Linked DNA regions of Homo sapiens: region 2 is linked to region 1. The links come from fine-mapping of genetic effects on gene expression. A gene starts in region 1. The other region holds a variant in brackets. All regions are shown on one strand. Distances are between the middles of the regions. Region 1 holds the start of DGCR2 (DiGeorge syndrome critical region gene 2). Region 2 overlaps DGCR2 (DiGeorge syndrome critical region gene 2).

Region 1 (2,895 bases):
GCCTGGGTAACTTTTGTATTTTTAGTAGAGATGTGGTTTCACCATGTTGGCCAGGCTGATCTTGAACTCCTGACCTCAGGTGATCCGCCCGCCTTGGCCTCCCAAAGTGCTGGGATGACAGGCGTGAGCCACCACACCCGGCAGAGTCTGGCACTTTTTAATAAGAAACATTAACAGTCTTTTCTCTGTGAAGCCTGATACCTGGAGGCTTCATTTGCCTAAGAAACTTGGTCTCCACAACCCCTTAATGTAGACAGTCCCTTTTATTGATTCCAGGTCTTTAGATAAACTCTTTGAACCAACTGCCAATCCGCATGACCTAGAAGCCCCCCTCCACCCCCCACTTTCAAGTTGTCCCGCCTTTTCCGACTGAACCAATGTATATCTTACATGTGCTGATTGATGTCTTGTCTCCCTAAAATGTATAAAACCAAGCTGTGGCCCTACCCCCTTGGGCACTTGTCAGGATCTCCTGGGGCTGTGTCCCAGGCTATTGGTCACATATTGGCTCAGAAGAAATGTCTTCAAATATTTTACAGAGTTGGACTCTTCGCCGACACTGCCCTCCAAGGTTCACCCTGTTGGTGATGACGGGAGAAGTGGCACTTGGAGCACTGTTCGCAGGGGCGCTGAGCCTCCTCTCTGCCTAGCTTTCTTTCCTGCACATGTGGCCTTCCCCTAGCCATTGTGTAGGCAGGTCCTCCAGGGAGCCGGCTTCGCTGCAGTCTCCAGGACCTGGCCTTCCCGGTCTCTCTTTGCCTGACACTCTCTTAGGCCATTCCTGTTCCTCTTTCCCCACCCTCAGAACCGGCAGGCCCTCCCTCCTCCACAGCGGTTCGGCCTTAAAAAGACCCCTTTGGGGCGCACTTTTGGGCTGCTCACGGGACCTGAGCTTGCAGGTGTGAAGACCCTTGGAGTCCCAGCCAGGTTCCCACTTCGTTCTCTCCGCTCCCCACCCGCGCGACCCCTCGGCGCCCCGCCCCATGCCCCGCGCCTTTCGATGTCCATCCTTGCCGTCCCGCGCCCGCCGTCCCTAACCGGCGTCCAGAGACCCTACTCCCTTCGGTGGCCCCGCCGCTCAGGCCCCGGCCCCGGCCCTGCCTCTCTGCTTAACCAATGGCACGCCTCACTCCGTATGGTCCCGCCCTTCCCTTAGAGCCCGCCCCTCAGTCCCCGCCCTTAGGTCCCCGCCCTCCGCCGTCGCGACCTTAGGCCTCACCCTCTTCGGAGGGCTTTGGCTCTGGCCCCGCCCCCCATCTTGACGGTCATTGGCCCGCGCCTGCGTCGCGGGCGGGAGGCGGGGCGGGGCGGCGCGGCGCGGAGCCGAGCAGGACGGCCGCCATCTTGCGCGCAGCTGGAGTCGGTGCCTGAGGTTGCAGCCGAGAGTGTGCGCCAGCCCGCGGCCCAGCCGAAGCTCTTTCCCGCCGCCTCTCCGCGCCTCGCCCAGGTTCAGCTCCGCCTGACCCTCCGCTTGGCACGGTCCCCTGACCCTCAGTCCGGCCTGGTCCGGCCTTCCAGCCGCCCCGGGGACGATGAACGGAGGATAAATGGTGCCCAAGGCAGACAGCGGCGCCTTCCTGCTGCTCTTCCTGCTCGTGCTCACTGTCACCGAGCCGCTGCGGCCAGGTGCGCCGCGCGATGGGGGCGGTGTGGGGGCTGGGCGGCGAGCGGGGCCGGGGTCGCCCCGGGACCTCCTTTCACCCGCGGCGCCCTCCTGCAGGGGCCGCGCCTGGGGCAGGGGCGGGCGGGGCCTGGCTCGCGGGCCGCCTGGCACTCTCTGCGGACGCCTGCTGGAGCTTACCTGGGCTCGCGGCGCCTCGGACTTCGTGCAGCTCTGCTGTCCAGGATGTTGCCTCTGGGCCCTTCCCGGGAGCGGCGGCGGCCAGGAGCTACGCCACGGGCGCACCCTCTCGCCAGTCCAGCGTCGGAGTCGGGCTGGGGACAGTGGCTCTCAGGGGCACCTGGTTTCACAGACGTCCTCCCAGCAGTGGCCTAGTGCCAGCCTCTCAGTCCTGGAAACTCCTCGCCTGGACAGCGGTGGTTGTGGCTGTCATTCAGTGAGACGTTGCGCTAAGGAAGTCCTCAGGTCCCACCGGGCCTAGAGGAGGCACCAGGAGTCAGCCTAGCGTTGTGTGGCCGGCGCGAGCGTCCCGGGAGCAGAGACCTCGCCACTGTGCGGGGCCCTTAGCCGTGCTGCGTGTATGTGATGAATGAGTCCGTGCTTTGGAACTCCCCTCGGAGCTAGTGTGTTCTTAAGTCTGTGGTGGGGAATCAGAACCGTGGCAACCAGGAGACCCTTTTCTACCTATTTCGGTGTACCTCCCCTTGAACTGCACCAAAAAATCAAACTCCCTAAATGCAGGGCCGATGTATCCATCAGGCACAGGAATCCTGGTATCACTTGCCCACGGTACTTTTAGTAGCCTTCGAATGTTATTTTATTTTTTTTTAAAGTCAGCAGAAAAAAAATGAACTTTTAGGTCAAATAAAATGTTTTCGTATGTATATTAATACAGTCATCTTTATACTAATACAGTGAAAAAGCATGACTCTTAATATTTCTTAATGGAGGAAAGGTCCCATGAAGGCAGAAGTGCCAGGGCCATCTTCTCTGATGACCTGGGTGTGGGAGCACGGGGTGTGTGGCCCTCTCCTGTGCCCTAGCCAGGCTCCCAGCCCAGATACACCGCACCTCTTGGCTCTGCGCTTGTGTCATCTATGTGGAATGTCTGCCTCCTCCCTAGTGCCTGCCTGGTGGCCAAGGCCCTGACCGGTGCTCAACCTGGACAGATTCAGTGATGCTTCTCTGGTCTCCCCATGTAGAGCTAGTTGCTCACTGCTTTTGGCTGCTCTCTGGGCAGCGGGATGACTAGTTGTGGGGTGGCCTTGGTAAGA
Region 2 (2,895 bases), 87 kb after region 1:
CCTGCTGCAGTCCCCAGTCTGACCAGCAAGTCCCGGGGTCACCCTTGCTGAACCTTGTGCTCCAGGGGTCCTCCTCCTCTAGGACCAGCTTGCCACGGTTTCTCAGAGCCCAGGTGCCCTCTGACCTGCCATGCGGAGGTGGGATTTGATACTGTACATTGTCTTGATGCCTGTTTTTTTATGTTTTCATTAAGGGTTTTTAGTTTTTGGTTGGGTTGACACTAACTTTTCTTAAGATGCTGTGAGAATCATTTCATCCAAATGCCAAATAAACTTGTGTTCCGGAAGAGGCATGGTTAGTCCTTGGTGTGGCCCCCACGGCTGCCACAGGCTAAGGTGGAAGAGGCTGGGTACCCACCTTTCAGCAGAATGCACCTAGGGTTTGCAGCCCTTGCAGGCGTCCATCAAACCCCCTGAGGACCAGGCAGAGCTGAGCCTGGAGCCCCTAGGTGGAGTGTGCAGGGAGAGCAGCAGCCCTGAGCTGCCTACAGCTATCCTGCAGCACCCAGCCCTGCTTGGGGCATCGGCTGCTGCCTTGGCAGGTGTTGCTGACGTGCACAGGATCCACATAAAGGCAAGGCTGCTTGACACCATCTGGGAGCTAGCATGGGACGGGGTGGTAGGGCAGGGCTTGGAACCTGGCCGTCAGCGCCATTTCCTCTAAGCTCCCCTCATCATCCGGGTGGCTGGAAACAGCCCCTCCCTCCAGTCCAAGCCACCTAATGTTACAAAGTAGCCTAGGTCCTCTGGGGCCTCTTCACTCATGTCCAGCAGTGCCATCTCTAGGTCTCAGAGGGTAGTGGGCCCAGGAAGTGTGATTGCATGCCCTGCTCTGGGGGCACTCCAGATGTGTATACTGGGGGGACGTCCTGCGGCCGGACACGAGAGGAGTCAGGGTTAGGAAAGGAACTGGTAAGTCCCTTGGCAGGGATGGGAGCCTCGAGGATGTGGCCCCTCATTTTTTATCCCATCTGCTGGGGCAGGAGTGGAGTGGTGGTGTTGAGTCCCGAGCACACAGGTCACTGTCAGCACTCTGGACAGAGCCCCGAGCCCTGCCTCTGGGTAGGGGCTGTCTTCCCATCCCCAATGTGGGTAGGGCCCTGCCCTCTGGCGATTGGAAAGAGGCGCAGGGTGCAAAGAAGTCCCCTCCTCTGACCTCCTGCAGGGCTCCGTCTTGGCCTGGATCCGCAGGGGGGCCTGGGTAGGAGGGAGGCTGTGGTCTTGGGATGGGGTGGCAGTTCCGGGCCCACAGTGGGGCAAGAGACATCCTACACCTTCCTCCCATCCTTGCCCCGAAAGTCATGGGCACTGGGGTCCAAGGTGCCCTCACTATTTGACCTTTCTTGCTGGTGGCTTTGGTGTGTCATTCTGGTCCCCAGCCTCTGTTTCCTGGACTGTAAGTGGGGATAATAATAGGTCACCCCTCCCCTGCAGGATTAACCTCAGCGATTGTTGCTGGCATCAGTGCAGCCCTGGGACCAG[A/G]GCACACCTGGGTGAGTTTGGAGCGCTCGCGCTCTTCCTGGTGGCCCTGCCTGGGCACCGACCCCTCCCATCCTCTCCTCAGTAGCCACGCCCCTAGCCCAGCTAGCTAATGAATAAATATGTAGTAGCCAGGCCAGCATCCTGGCTGCGTGGTCTAGCCACTTTCTAGTCCTTCCTAGCTGCGGCTGCCACTGAGCCACGCACGCCCCTGGCATCATGCTCGCCTTGCGGTGCAGCTGGTGTGGCGCAGACTCTGAGAGTGAGCACCAGGACTCTTCCTGTCTGGCCTCCAATCTACCCTCTTGCCATGCTCCACCACCCCTTAGGTCTTGCCACTGGGAGTGGGGAGGGACTGGGGAGAGAAAATACTGAGGTAGGGGTGACAGGAGAGAAGGTTCTTCACTGGCCTCCCCTGGCCTAAACCCCTGACCTACTTCATTCTTGGACCCCAGCTGATGGGATGGGGCTTGGAGAGGGCCCAGATGACTGGCCTCTCAGCTCAGCCTCCTGCCCACTGTCTCTATAGGTGCCTGGTGCTATGACTCCCAGGACCTCAAGTATGGTGAGGACAGAGTGTCATGTGAGGCTGTGTCAGATCAGTCTGTGTCCTGGGACCACCAGAGCATGTGCCAGTGGTGCAAGAGTGGCCAAGAGACAGTCTGCACCCTGCACTCTGTGGCCTTTGCAGGTTTCTGTCTGTAGTCGTCTGCCCCAGTAGACTGACTGGGCATCAGGTGCAAGTGCGTGACTGTCCCCCTGTGTGTGAGTCTGGGCCTGCTGTGATTGCCGGTCCCGAGTCAGTCAAGGCTGGTGTGCCCGTTACTGTGGCCAGCCCAAGTGTGTGCAGGTGATAGAGGTCCCAGTGTGGGTGTGCAACTGTGTGCCGGAGACCCTTCCACCTTCATCTCACCATGGGGCAGCCAACTGGGAGACTAGATGGATAGGTCAGATGCAGGGTACAAGAGAAGGGGGGTGCTGTGACCTGTTCAGGTGTGGGGGAAGCAGGGAGCTAGGTTTCCTGAGGCTGGGCTATCCTCTGGGTGTATGGGGGCCACTCTCTGCTGCACCCCCAGGCTGCCTCCCTGACCCCCCCCCCACCCCAAAGGCCCCAGTCCTTGTTCCAGCAGTCCCCACCCACTGGAAGAAGCTGGCCCCCTGCCTGTGGGGGCCCAGGCCAGTCCCTCATCAACATTGACTTTCACAGGGTCCGGCGGAACTCTACCCTAGGGCCCTTCATCTTCCGAGGCTATGACTCAGCACCTCCAGGCCCTTGGACCCTGGAGAATGACAGCCACACAAGTCAGCACCCTGTGGTCAGGACCCCTCCTAGGCAGAGGCAGGAGCCCCACACAGGGCATGAGAGCTCCTGCGTGTACACAGGGACCAGGACCCCCTACACACGGGAGCTGAGAC

Evidence for each region.
Region 2: its variant is fine-mapped to the expression of DGCR2 in whole blood (TOPMed, PIP 0.97).

The regions. Positions count from the first base shown.
Region 1 is chr22:19,120,859-19,123,753 of GRCh38, reverse strand. It overlaps DGCR2 (DiGeorge syndrome critical region gene 2), which reads left to right and starts at 1,342. Exons shown (of 10, transcript NM_005137.3): 1 at 1,342-1,626. The coding sequence starts at 1,548. RefSeq lists silencers at 1,018-1,457, 1,578-1,697 and an enhancer at 1,482-1,983.
Region 2 is chr22:19,033,678-19,036,572 of GRCh38, reverse strand. DGCR2 (DiGeorge syndrome critical region gene 2) reads left to right here. Exons shown (of 10, transcript NM_005137.3): 10 at 1-287. It also overlaps the pseudogene CA15P1. Among named protein-coding and RNA genes, the nearest start is that of FAM246C, 5.6 kb to the right of the region's middle. RefSeq lists a silencer at 385-554. The variant A/G (reference allele first, on the strand shown) is at 1,483.